Homo sapiens: one gene and its partners. The protein of the gene in region 4 purifies or fractionates together with the protein of the main gene of each other region. This does not show direct contact. Each region holds a gene or a part of one and is shown on either strand. Other genes may lie near its edges.

What was found. Proteins that work in one complex are often made in the same cells at the same time.
Region 1: the proteins of GTF2I (region 4) and MAT2B fractionate together in Homo sapiens (co-fractionation; one large-scale study listed by BioGRID). This does not show direct contact.
Region 2: the proteins of GTF2I (region 4) and ZMYM2 fractionate together in Homo sapiens (co-fractionation; one large-scale study listed by BioGRID). This does not show direct contact.
Region 3: the proteins of GTF2I (region 4) and NAE1 fractionate together in Homo sapiens (co-fractionation; one large-scale study listed by BioGRID). This does not show direct contact.

What each region holds. Positions count from the first base shown.
Region 1 is NC_000005.10:163,512,119-163,515,618, reverse strand, and holds part of MAT2B (methionine adenosyltransferase 2 subunit beta), read right to left. Parts: coding exon 3,423-3,500; intron 2,065-3,422; coding exon 1,950-2,064; intron 1,778-1,949; coding exon 1,625-1,777; intron 1-1,624.
Region 2 is NC_000013.11:20,059,727-20,063,226, forward strand, and holds part of ZMYM2 (zinc finger MYM-type protein 2), read left to right. Parts: intron 1-1,326; coding exon 1,327-1,498; intron 1,499-3,119; coding exon 3,120-3,245; intron 3,246-3,500. UniProt on the Homo sapiens protein: Involved in the negative regulation of transcription.
Region 3 is NC_000016.10:66,810,477-66,813,976, forward strand, and holds part of NAE1 (NEDD8-activating enzyme E1 regulatory subunit), read right to left. Parts: intron 3,371-3,500; coding exon 3,311-3,370; intron 3,222-3,310; coding exon 3,088-3,221; intron 297-3,087; coding exon 221-296; intron 1-220. UniProt on the Homo sapiens protein: Regulatory subunit of the dimeric UBA3-NAE1 E1 enzyme. E1 activates NEDD8 by first adenylating its C-terminal glycine residue with ATP, thereafter linking this residue to the side chain of the catalytic cysteine, yielding a NEDD8-UBA3 thioester and free AMP.
Region 4 is NC_000007.14:74,734,218-74,737,717, reverse strand, and holds part of GTF2I (general transcription factor II-I), read right to left. Parts: intron 2,258-3,500; coding exon 2,186-2,257; intron 1,219-2,185; coding exon 1,035-1,218; intron 1-1,034. UniProt on the Homo sapiens protein: Interacts with the basal transcription machinery by coordinating the formation of a multiprotein complex at the C-FOS promoter, and linking specific signal responsive activator complexes.

The DNA of each region.
Region 1 (3,500 bases), on a different chromosome or scaffold from region 4:
AAAATAAAAGCAATAAAGGACATTTTTGGCATAAATGAGAAAATTCCTAAATAGATTTGTATTTGATTACAGTACCATATTAATGTTAAGTTTCCAAATGTATGATAACTGCACTGTAATTATGTGAAGAACATTCTTCTTGTTAGAAGATAAAAGAAAGGTAAAGTATTTGGAGATGAAATTCAACTAATTATCAATGGGTCTGGCAAAAGCAAACATATAAAACAAATGTGACAAAACATCAACAATTTGTGAATCTATGTGAAGGGTATATGAGTGTTCACATTAGTTTTACAACCACTCATTAATATTTAGATTTTATAATGGTCCCTGCTGATGGTATACAATAGTTAACACTTTAACTGCAAATCAAACATTTTCTTTTAAATTACATGACAAGAGAACTTAGATACTGCTATGGTTTGAATGTTTTTGTCCTCTCCAAAAATTCATGTTGAAACTTAATCCACGAAGCAACAGTGCTGGGAGGTGGGGCATTTTGGGAGGTGTTTAGGTGGTCATCAGCACTCTGCTCTTATGAATGGATTAATGCCATTATAAAAGGACTTGAAGGAAGAAGCACATCCCTTTCTGCTCTTCTGCCGTGAGAACACAGCATTCCTCCCCTCCAGAGGACCAGAAAGACCCTCACCTTGATCTTGGACTTCTCAGCCTCTAGAACTGTGTGAAATAAATTTCTGTTCTTTATAAATTACTGAGTTGTTGGTATTCTGTTATAGCAGCACGAAATAAACTAAGACAAATGTATTCAAGGATGATTTCAACAGAATAATTTATAATACAAGAAAACTTTTTAAAAAACTAAATGTCCATTAGTAAGGTATTCTACACTAGGGCTGCTTCTCAAGGCCATAGTACAGTCTAAGGCAGTAGTTTTAGTGCAGGGGACCATTAAATTAAGTACTACGCAGCCACTGATAGGAGTAAGATATCCCAGAGTAGGTTCCATGTGTACTAAAATGCAAAGATGTTGAGGGAAAAAAAACAGGTTGTGAAACAACATGCATACATTTTTTGAAAATATATAAAAATGCTTCCACACTTAACCATATTTGGTGTTTATCTCCCTGAGGCAGCATTTATGAGAACTTTTGTTCTTAGTAATTTTACATTTTTTCTAAGGAGTGTATACTTTTTATATATGGAGATGTGTGTTATACACAAACTCACATACAGGAAAAAAGAAACACCATAATAGAATGTTAATACATACAACATACATATAACAGAATACATAAAAACAAAATACATACACATATAACACAGTAACATACATATAACAGAATACATAAACAGAATATCTCACTCTAAGAGAAATTATACTGCCCTGTTTTTTGAAAATGAGTTACAAAAGCTTGTATTACCTGACTTGTTTTCTATGTGTAAAGATGAATATGTAAACACTGATAGTGGAAACTGTCTTGAAGGATTCACAAAGTAGTTATCTCTTAGAATTTTTTATTTTCTTTATTAACTATATTCTAATTTTTCTCTAATGATTCATATTCATTGACTTTTTAAATTTAAAACATATATATGTGTATGTATAAATGATTTTTAAAGTCTTCAAAAACAATCAGGGGCTAAATAGATTAGGTCTTACCTAGATTGTTCTCCAGGACAGCCTTTTCTCCATCTAATTTTGTTTTGCCATACAAATTTAGGGGAGCTGGTATGTCTTCCTCTCTGTAAGGTGGATTTGTTCCATCAAATACATAATCTGAGCTAATGTAGATGAGAAATGCTCCAACAGCAGCTACAAAAAAAGAAGACAAATCTATTAAATGTTTACATGACATTACTCTTTCATGGAATTTAGAATGGTTTTTCATGATATATAAAAACAAATAACCATCTACAAAACCTTAATTTCTAAAAACTCAGCAATCACTTAATATTTTATGAAAATTTTATAAAGTCATCATTACCTGCTTCCTTTGCTAAATTCCCAGAAGCATCCACATTAAGTTGAGAGGCAGCATCTGGCTGATTTTCTACAACATCTGGTCTTCTCTCTGCTGCACAATGTACTATAACATGGGGCTAGAAGTTAAGCATTGACGTATTTTTAACTCAAAATAAAATGAAAGAGGTATTACAGCCTTCTTAAAGTTAATTCAGAGAAAAATGTGCAGTAAGTCAACATTCTTTCAACTAAGAATAAATCATTGTAATTTCTAATGTAGTTTTGTCATGCTGCTTCTTTTCCCCGCAAGGTTCAAACTTAAAATATTTATAGGCACTGAAAAGAGTATTTCATAATATGCAGACACAAACCAGGAAAAAAACTGTCAACAACTGTATTTCTACTCTGGTGTGACGGTTCATGCATGTAATCCCAACACTTTGGGAGGCTGAGGTGAGACAATGCTTGAGGCCAGGAGTTCAAGATAAGACTAGGCAACATAGTGGTTGGTACTCAATCTCTACAAAAAAATTTAAAAATCAGCCAGTCGTGGTGGCATGAGCCTGTAGTTCTAACTGTTGTGGAGGCCGAGGCAGAAGGATCACTTGAGCCAAGGAATTCAAGGCTACAGTGGGCTGTGATCGATCTACCGTACTTCACCCTGGGCTACAGAGTGAGACCCTGTCTGAAAATAAAACAACCATGTTTCTAGGCTGGGCGCGGTGGCTCAAATCTGTAATCCCAGCACTTTGGAAGGCTGAGGTGGGTGGATCACGTGAGGTCAGGAGTTCAAGACCAGCCTGGCCAACATGGTGAAACCCCATCTCTACTAGAAATACAACAATTAGCCAGGTGTGGTTGCGCATGCCTGTAGTCTCAGGTACTCAGGAAGCTTAGGCAGGAGAATTGCTTGAACCCTGGGAGGCGGAGGCTGCAGTGAGCTCAACTGCACCACTGCACTCCAGCCTGGGCAACAAACCAAGATTACGTCACAAAAACAAGAACAAAACAGAAGTCTTTCTAAATCAAAACAAGTTTTATCCCCCAATTTGGACAAAAGGAAAGAGCTATCATTTATGCAATTAACATGATTTAAATATCTAATAAATCCATGTCAAAGGGAGAATAGTATCAATGATACCGAAAACCTCTCTGAGCCTGCTCCCTCAGCCCTAAAATGAAAATAACTATTTTGCAGTGTTGTGAGGTTTACAGTAACATTTGAAAACCATTTGCAGAGAAAGTATTACTTAGAAGGCACTCTATAAACATAAGCATTTTATAAAATGTCTCATATTTGTCTTTGTCAGCGTGTCAAAATTTAACTTTAAGGTTTACATATACCATGTCATGCTAAATGAAAAAAATGCTACTGCATAATACAACTTTAGAGCTTTCAAACATAGTAATTTCCTTGAGAGCAAGGATAGTTTCTGTATCATCCAGACAACTCTTAATATTGTTCATGTATATCTTAAAATAACCTAAATCATACCTGAAAATCATGAATGATGTGATGAACTGCATTAGAATCCAACAGATTAACCTGTTCAAATTTTGGTCTTGCTCTTCT
Region 2 (3,500 bases), on a different chromosome or scaffold from region 4:
CAGGTTCCACATCCGTGACCAAACACAGACTGAAAATACAGTATTCTGCCTGTAATCCCAGCACTTTGGGAGGCTAAGGTAGGCGTATCTTCAGCCCAGGAGTTCAAGACCAGCCTGGGCAACATGGTGACACCCTGTCTCTACTAAAAATGTAAAAATTAGCCAGGCACAGTGGCATATACCTGTAATCCCAGCTACTTGGGAGGCTGAGGTAGGAAGATTGCTTGAGCTTGGGAGATGGAGGCTGCAATGAGCCGTGATTGCACCACTGCACTGCAGCCTGGTCTACAAAGCAAGTCCTTATCTCAAAAAAAATGAAAATAAAAAATTATTTGAGGATGTGAAATCTGTGTAGAAGGCTGACTGTAGGGGTGTGGAACTTGAGTATGCATAGACTTTGGTATCCATCCACAGGTGGTCCTGGAACCAATCCCCTAGAATACTGAGGATAACTCTAGTTGCAGTTACTAGTTTAATGAAGCTAATAAAACCATCTTTACCTTTCTTCGACAGTTAACTTAGATTTGGTTGAATCTCTGTTGTCATGATTGATTGCTTTGTGTATAGTATGTATATGTTCATCCTCGAGAGTGACATTTCGCGGATGTCTGTGCCTGCTCTGTGCATATTAAGTTTATATTTGGGTTCATTTTCAAAAGGAATATTTGTGGGCCATGTGCAGTGGCTCACGCCTGTAATCCCAGCACTTTAGGAGGCTGACATGGGCAGATCACCTGAGGTCAGGAGTTCAAGACCAGACTGGCCAACATGGTGAAACCCCCTCTCTACTAAAAATACAAAATTAGTTGGGCATGGTGGCACATGCCTGTAATCCCAGCTGCTGGGGAGGCTGAGGCAGGAGAATCGCTTGAACCCGGGAGGCGGAGGTTGCAGTGAACTGAGATAGCGCCATTGCACTCCAGCCTGGGCAACAAGAGTGAAATTCCATCTCAAAAAAAAAAAAGAAAAATATTTGTGAAGCCATAAGGTTTAGAACTGAAACATAGAATTTCATATAAAATATTATTTTATCCCAAATCACTTGCAGTACTTAGAAGAACACTGTGTCAGGGCTTGGCTATTATAGTCCCCTGGGGGACAGAAATACTTCAAAAATTCTTTTTCTTTAATTTGAATTCCAAAAAGTAGATGCTTGTATTCTAGGCTTTCTTATCACAGTTAACATCTTAGTTTTGTATGTGTTCTTTTCAAAGCTTTTATCCAGTGTGATATTACAAAGTAGATCATGTGTCAGAGTAATTTTTAATTTGGAAAAATACCTTTTAATGTTTAGTAAACCTAACTCAAAATGATTTGGTTAATTAGGTGCCAGTTCCTGTTTTTCTGCCTGCTCCATTGGACAGCAGTGAGAAGATTCCTGCAGCAATTGAGGAGCTAAAAAGCAAGGTTTCTTCAGATGCTCTTGATACAGAGTTGCTTACAATGACGGATATGATGAGTGAAGACGAGGGGAAAACAGAGACAACCAACATCAACAGTGAGCTACACTAAATTATACCTTGCGAATAAGTGTTAACATTGGTTATTTATAAGTATTGTTACAGTACTTTCCAGGGCATATCATTTTGTTTCAACTTATGTGGGGGTGAGGAAAGCATTGTAACAAAAATGTTTTTTATATTAAGAGATCTACACTGTATTTAGCCAGGTGCCCTCAGACAGATATCCGAAGCAGGAATTTGGTCTTTGGTCTCTGTTTTAAGCAGGATTTGACTTGTAAAATCAACTCAAAATTATTCTTGTTAATGGAGTAGTGCTGATGCAAAACTATAATAACTTGTAGTAGACTCTAATGATGATCAAAACTCTTATTTTGTAATAGTTATCCCTAGTTTTTTGTTTTGTTTTGTTTTTTTTTTTAGATGAACTCTTGCTCTGTTGCCCAGGGTGGAGTGTAGTAGCATGATCCCGGTTCACTGAGATCTCTGCCTCCTGGGTTCAAGCTATGCTTCTGCCTCAGCCTCCTGAGTAGCTGGAATTACAGGCACGTGCCACCACGCCCAGCCAATTTTTGTCTTTTTAGTAGAGACAGGGCTTCCCTATGTTGGCCAGGCTGATCTCAAACTCCTGACCTCAGGTGATCCACCTGCTTCCCAAAGTGCTGGTATTACAGGTGTGAGCTACCACACCCAGCCCCTAGTTTTCTTTTATTGCTTATACTAATAAAATAATTTGCATTATCTAAACCAGAGTTTATCTTAACCTCTGTTAGGGCAGTGCTTGCGCTACATGGTATAACGTGATGAGTGTGTTGTGGATGGTTCTAAGTCACTTAGAATATTTATTTTCCACCCTTAACCCTCTCTTGATACCCAAAGTCCTATTTCAACCTTGAGCTAATTCTTACCCTTACCCTAGAGGACAATCAAAATACTATAATTTTCTCTGGATTTAATAATGAGACAGTGTTTTTGAAGCACTGTGGTAAGGAGTTGTGAAATTAGTGGGTTGCAACCAGTGTTTTTGTTTAAGAAAAGAAAAAGCTAAGTGGAATAGGGTAAGAGAAATGACAGTGTGAATCCCTCATAGAAAGGGTAAGTATTATTTTGTGAAACCAGTGTGTATACAGATGTCTTTCTGTTCCCCACCATCACCTTGCAGTATGTGCTGGATAAAATGCATTTCTTGCCATGATTACAACACAAAAACACTTGAAAGCAACTGATCGAACCATTAAAAGGCAGTTGTTAATATGCATATATTGAACAATCTGAGAAACCTGGGTCAAAATTCAAAGAGTATTGAAAACTACAGTTGTCTACCCTCATTAGTTTATTTTTGACAAAAAGTTGCTTTTAGAAATACTTTACTTGTTGAAGTTGTTTTACTATCAAAGCATACCTATTAGCTTTTGAAGGGAGTCCTCCTGTAAAATTTATAGGATTAAAAGTTTTCATGTGCTTGTGACTAATTATGAGGTTTATAGTGGTTTACATTTTGAGATAGTTATATATATAATATGCCCTTTTCTTTTGTGACATTATACGTATTTTTTTATATTGCATTTAAAATTAAATGACTTGCTTTTGCCAGATTAAATACAGATACCATTGGGGTTTTCTGTTTTGATTCCTAATGATAATATGGATTGATTTCAGGTGTAATTATTGAAACAGATATAATTGGTTCAGACCTTTTGAAGAACTCTGACCCAGAGACACAGTCCAGCATGCCTGATGTACCATATGAACCAGATTTGGATATCGAAATAGATTTTCCCAGAGGTACTCAAAACCTTTATGACTATGGAATTTAGTTATGGAGTCAACTGTGGTTATGATCATTTACCATTTGATGTTTGTGTCATTGCCTTTTAGCAGTGTTCATATTTTTTATTCTTGTTATTTTTTAAACTCACCTTAAGAGTTAACTTCATATTTTGTTGTTGTTTTTTTTTAAAAACCCACCTTAACAGTTAACTTCTGGAATGAGATCACTTGAGTCCAGGAGTTCAAGACCAGCCTGGGCAATGTGGTGAA
Region 3 (3,500 bases), on a different chromosome or scaffold from region 4:
ACAAAGCCAATCACTGTGAGATGGGAAGGCTTTCTCCAAGAGCTGGGAGAGCACTTTAAAAATATCTTGTTTCCTTATCACAAGCTATCCCATTAGGCAGGGAAATGACAGCTCCCTCTAAAGAAGCACAGAGGCAGTGCCACACCCTCTGTCTCTAAACCCTTTCTGGCTGGAGTTACGTGCTGAGGCCTGTATGGGCACAGTGTGCCCAGTAGCTTACCTGGCCAATGGACTGCAGCAATTTGGCAACATGATTACCCACAGCGGCAGCATCTTTCTTTGCTTTTTCACGGTAACTAAAAAAGAATAAAAAGCAATTACTAACAAATTTTTAAATTAGCAAAATTTAAATTGTTACCATGAACAAAAATTTTCTTTCCTTTTCATGAAAAAACACAGGTCTGACAATGTATGAAATGTGAAAATGCCAGGGAAATGCTATCAACAGCACCATGAGTAGCTGGGAATCTTTCCAGTGTTAGTGACGGACTCTCAGTGCCCACTAAAACCCAGGGTCCCTCTAACAGCACCCAACTTAAAAACTGCTCCCCTAGAGGGATCTATGATTTCGGCTTCTGTGACAGAGGACCTGAAAAAATACATTACTGAAGAACATGACTTATCTCCTGGAAGTCAAGTCCAAGGAAAGTTAAATACATTAAAACTGTTCATCTCCAATGTAAAACTTCTTTGTTTTTTGAGACAGGATCTCGCTCTGCCACCCAGGCTGGAGTACAGTGGCGCAGTCCTGGCTCACTGCAGCCTCAACTTCCCACGCTCAACTGATCCTCCCACCTCAGCTTCCCAAGTAGCTGGGAATTCAGGCACACGCTACCATGCCCGACTAATTTTTGTCTTTTTTGTAGAGACGGAGTTTCACCATGTTGCCCAGGCTGGTCTTGAACTCCTGGGTTCAAGTGATTTAGAAACTGAAAATACTGTATTAATGACAATTTTCAATTAACTGACCTTCATACCTTTTTAGCATTGCCATAGATAAACATGCTCTACCTCTGATTGTTTTAAAATACTCTGTATTTATTATGAGAGGAAAAAAAAACCCTTACCCAATTATTATCTGTATCTATACCACTGAGACAGACCATGGAAAACGTAAAATTTCAACCATTTAAAACAACTGTGAACATCCCTTGTGGCACATTTCACCACCCGCTTTGGCCTCCCAAAGTGCTGGGAATACAGGTGTGAGCCACTGCATCCGGCCATAAAAGTTTTCTTTACGTCTATTTACCTTTCACCCTCTAAAAATCATCAGTGTTCAGGCTGACTACCTCCCATGTAAGGTCATACTTCTTTCTATCCTCAATTGACCTTCCCCAAGTTTTAAGTAGTTGAACTCTTAGGCTAGGACAACAAACCAAGATTCGTTCAATGGTGACATGATAAAGAGTGAAATCTGTCTGGGGAAGAGAGATCATCTCTGTGTGACATTACTTGGACCCCAAAGAAACCGAGCCAGCAGACCTGGATTCTTTGCACCATGCCCTAACTATACGAGGGTCATATTCATTGAGACCCATCCCTGTGATAGTCTATCTGGGTTCAGGCTAGTGATACCTGGATAGCAAGATGTCTAGCTATAGTCATAGACTATAACTTATGAAACATTAAGATAAAAAATTCATCAAACCTTCATGGTTTTAAGTTACAAATACAAGGTAGTATAGGGCCATAGCTAAGCATACAGGCTCTGGTACTGGGTTTCCTGGGGTTCAAATCTTGGTTCTGCCATTTACCAGCTATCTGACCTTGTATAAGTAACCTTTTCAATACCTTAGTTTCTTCATGTGTAAAATGGGGCCGGTAACAGTCTCTCTCTCTCTCATAAGGTCGTTGTGAACCTTGTGTGTGTGTTAAATTACTTAATACATATAGTTCATAGCACAGAGTTAAGGGATCAAATATTAAGTTTATCATGAAGTATGAAAAAAAACTCTGCCTCCTAGGCGTATGTGGTAATTCTGTATTTCCCATTCAATTTTGCTTTGAGCTTAACAAGAATTGCCCCCTAAGTTCTTTTTTTTTTTTTTTTTTTTTTTGAGACGGACTCTTGCTCTGTCTCCAGGCTGGAGTGCAGTGGCACGATCTTGGCTCACTGCAACCTCCGTCTCCTGGGTTCAAGCGATTCCCCTGCCTCAGCCTCCCGAATAGCTGGGACTACAGGTGCGCACCACCACACCTGGCTAATTTTTTGTATTTTTTTAGTAGAGACAGGGTTTCACCATGTTGGCCAGGATGGTCTTGATCTTCTGACCTTGTGATCCACCCGTCTCGGCCTCCCGAAGTGGTGGGATTACAGGCGTGAGCCACCACGCCCGGCCTAAGTTCTTTTTTTTTTTTTTTGAGACAGAGTCTCACTCTGTCGCCCAGGCTGGAGTGCAGTGGTGCGATCTCCGCTCACTGCAAGCTCCGCCTCCCGGGTTCACGCTATTCTCCTGCCTCAGCCTCCCGGGTAGCTGGGACTACAGGCGCCTGCCACCACGCCCGGCTAATTTTTTTGTATTTTTAGTAGAGACAGGGTTTCACCGTGTTAGTCAGGATGGTCTCAATCTCCTGACCTCGTGATCCGCCTGCCTCGGCCTCCCAAAGCGCTGGGATTACAGGTGTGAGCCACTGCGCCCAGCCTGGTCTAAGTTCTTCAGCTTATTTTTACTTATTTATTTGAAACAGGGTCTTGCTCTGTCACCCAGGCTGAAGTGAAGTGGCATGATCATGGCTCACTGCAGCCTCAAACTCCTGAGCTCAAGAGATCCTTCTGCCTCAGCCTCCTGAGTAGTTGAGATTAAAGGCGAACACTACCATGCCCACCTAATTTTTCAATTTGTAGAGATGGAAGTCTCACTATGTTGCCCACGATGGTCTCAAACTCCTGGACTCAAGCAATTCTCCCACCTTGGCCTCCCAAAGTGTTGGGATTACAGGCATGAGCCACTGCAGCTGGCCTAGTTTATTTATAAGCAATGAGGTTGTAATAAACTTTCATTTGATTTCTGACAGGATGATAAAATGTTTATCTCTAATATAATCAGACTTTTTCTATTACATAGTTTGAAAACAGTGACATACACGTTTTGCAGTTTTATATATTTGCCTGAATCTGCAATCATATCAGGAATTGTGCCTCGAACAGGTAAATTTCCTTGACCCTCTTTGGCCACAAATTCCTTTAAGGCACGAGCTAAAATCCAAAATGATGGAGTCTAAAAGAATAAGAAAAAATTAACATTAAGTGGCGTTTTACTTTGACCCAAAGTTTTAGCAGCAATGTTTTTACTTTTGTTGTTGTTACCTGTTTGGTGATATTTATGCAGCGATCATCATTAAATATATCTTCAATACTGCTTGGGATCTAACAAAGGAACATGAAACATTTACTTACACAGTATTAAGAATTCGCCCATCTTTATTTTCAGTGCTATTTCTTCAGATATGTTCTTTGAATTCTCAAATTGTAATCAAATACAAACTTCTGATTGGTT
Region 4 (3,500 bases):
CTATCCCTTATAACTCAGTCCCAACAAACACACAGAGGCATGACCCCAATCAGTAAGGAAGGTTTACCCTTCCACATCCCGTCAATGAGTGGAGAGAGGCCTTCTGTTCCTAACCCCGCACCCAAACTAACCATTGTGTTATCCTTCAAAATCAAGCCAGAATTACCTTTCTAAAGGGCGGATCCACATTATTTTCAGAGGCATCTGCCTCGAGACCACTTCGTGACTGCCTCTGTGTTCGTAGGATCTCAGGCCTTCCTCCACTTGCCCACCCAAGTCGATCCATGCAACCCCACCACGCCCACGTGGCAGTCCTCACTCCACACACGGTGGGTGAGTTCTGTGGATACGCAGGCATATTTGCCACCTCCTCCCCCTACTCATATGATTTCCTTCACTTGAAACACCTTCCATCTCTTCTGGATGCACAAGTGACCGAGCTGGGTGTGCCATCCTTGCCTTCTCCCTTAAAAACGCTCAATAACACTTCATTGCATTTTTCTATTTTTTTTTTTTAATTATTTTGAGATGGAGTCTCGCTCTGTTGCCCAGGCTGGAGTGCAGTGGCACGATCTCGGCTCACTGCAACCTCCGCCTCTAGGGTTCAAGTGATTCTCCAACCTCAGCCTCCCGAGTAGCTGGGACTACAGGCTTGCACCACCGCTTCCAGCTAATTTTTGTATTTTTACTAGAGATGGGGCTTCATCATGTTGGCCAGGCTAGTCTTGAACTCCTGACCTCAAGTGATCCACCTGCCTTGGCCTCCCAAAGTGCTGCGATTACAGGCGTGAGCTGCCGCGCCCGGCCTTCAGTGCATTTTTCTTTGTATGAAGGCCCCAAGGACAGTGTTCTTGTTAGACCCAATTTTGCACATCTGATGCTTATACTAATATTTGTTCACTAAGTGAATCTAAATATTAATGCCTTCATTGTCAATAGAAATAAGTCATAAGGTAAACAAAAGGCCCTTCTTCATCAAATTAACCTCTTCTCAGGGAAGACACTGAAACTATTTCTACAGATTATCATCTTACCTTTTAATAACAAATTTAATTCGATTGCCCACTTGAATGATTTTTTCCAGCCTTGGGATTCCATACCATGAGGGACTTCGGAAAGGAATGTTTTCTGGCAGTCCTTCCACGTACAGATCATTCGGGTGTGCCTCAAATTTTTGGTACGGTACAGCCTTGGCTTCAGTGCTCCCCAAGGCTTCCGCTGGACAAAAATCAAAGCAATTCGGGAGACTACATTTGTATTGAAATCAGATTTTAGTACAATCCAAAGAAAGGCACAGGTCAATTTTGTTTTACTTGAAAAAAACTCTTTCTAGAAACATATTTATTAACTATTGAATAGACTTAATACAGCAAAGACAAGTAGAGATGACCGATCATCAACAGCCAGATTTGGGCAGATTTAAGTGTCCTGGTCCTAAGACAATCTTAATAGCTCTGAGATCTTTAAAAGATTAAAGTTTGTTTTTCAATATCCTTAGGAAGAAAAGAGAGAAAGAAAATCATCATGGACAATAGAGGACACAACCTAAATACTATCTGGAAGCAGCCTTTTGCTACTAACTGTTCAGGACCGTAATTACCCTCCTCCATCGGCTATGGCAAACTGGTAACACATTTCCGACTACACTTTCATCTGCGTGGCAACCAGATCAATGTTCTTTACCCCTTCAACCTCACGAGCATGCCATTTTAAAGGAAATAACTTTCCACAGATAATTCATAGAATGGGGGCCGGGCGCGGTGGCTCACGCCTATAATCCCAGCACTTTAGGAGGCTGAGGCGGGTGGATCACCTGAATTCAGGAGTTTGAGACCAGCCTGGCCAACATGGCGAAACCCCATCTCTACTAAAAATACAAAAGTTAGCCAGGCGTGGTGGCGGGCACCTGTAATCCCAGCTACTTGGGACGCTGAGGCAGGAGAATTGCTTGAACCCGGGAGGAGGAGGTTGCAGTGAGCTGAGATCGTACCACTGCACTCCAGCCTGGGCAACAGAGCAAGACTCCTTCTCAAGAAAAAAAAAAAAACCCAAAAAAAAAAAACAGGGAAAACTAAAGCTGAGTCCTATTCACTGTATTTACTTTCCTAAAATAAAACAACATTTAAAAAAATGTTACTCAGTAATACATTTTAGTTGAAGGGGTAATTAAAAAAAACAGACTTACCAAATTTTTTGCAGAAAAGCTGATCCACCATCTTTCTTAATTTAGTGATTCTGGCATACCATTCTTCCTTTACTGTCAAAATAACAGTAATACAAGTGTTCTCAATTTAATGGGTTTAATAACTTGATTATTAAACATTATTACTATAAAATAAGAGGTATAACTTTTCCTTTTCCTATGGCCAAAATTATTTCTAAGATTCGTGGCCAGGTGCAATGGCTCACACCTGTAATCCCAACACTTTGGGAAGCCGAGGCAGGCGGGTCACTTGAGGTCAGGAGTTTGAGACCAGCCTGGCCAACATGGTGAAACCCCATCTCTACTAAAAATACAAAAATTAGCCAGGCGTGATGGCGCACGCCTGTAGTCCCAGCTACTCATGAGGCTGAGGCAGGAGAATCGCTTGAACCCAGGAGGCAGCGGTTGCAGTGAGCTGAGATTGCGCCATTGCACTCCAGCCTGGGCAACAGAATGAGATTCCGTCTCAAAAAAAAAAAAAGACAATAATAAAATTATTCCTAAGATTCTAGAATGTATTTATTTCTAAAACAATGCTGACACTGTACAAAAAGAGGAAGAACGAAACATTCATTAGAGCTAGGAAAAAGCAAAACTCAGTGTATTCAGGAACAGCTAGCAGGTAACACTTGCTACAGGAAGATTAGGGCTATGATCTTGCTGCAGTCCTTCTATCTTAGTAAATATCAACAGGGTGATTCCATTCTGTTTTATCCTCACTCCACTCCACTCCAGAGCAAAAGCAAGCAAGAAAATCAATTATATTTCTATTTATTTTAAAACACATCTAACAGGCTGGGCGCGGTGGCTCATGCCTGTAATCCTAGCACTCTGGGAGGCCGAGGTGGGCAGATCACCTGAGGTCAGCAGTTTGAGATCAGCCTGGCCAACATAGTGAAACCCTGTCTCTACGAAAAATACAAAAATTAGCTGGGCATGGTGGCAGGCACCTGTAATCCCAGCTACAGGGAGGCTGAGGCAGGAGAACTGCTTGAACCCAGGAGGCGGGAGGTTGCAGTGAGCGGAGATCGCACCACTGCACTCCAGCCTGGGCAACAGAGCAAGATTCCCTCTCAAAAAACAAAACAAAACAAAACAAAATACATCTAACAATTAAGAGATGATATAAATGGCTCCATGCTCTAAAAGGAAACCTTCTTATGTCCTGCATATCATGGACATTCAATGAATGCTTGTTCCATTGACTCGTGTAGACTTCAATAATAAACTGTTCAATGCATTATGCCAGATAAATCTTGCATCAAAAGTAGAACAAATATTGTTCTTTTACTTCTGT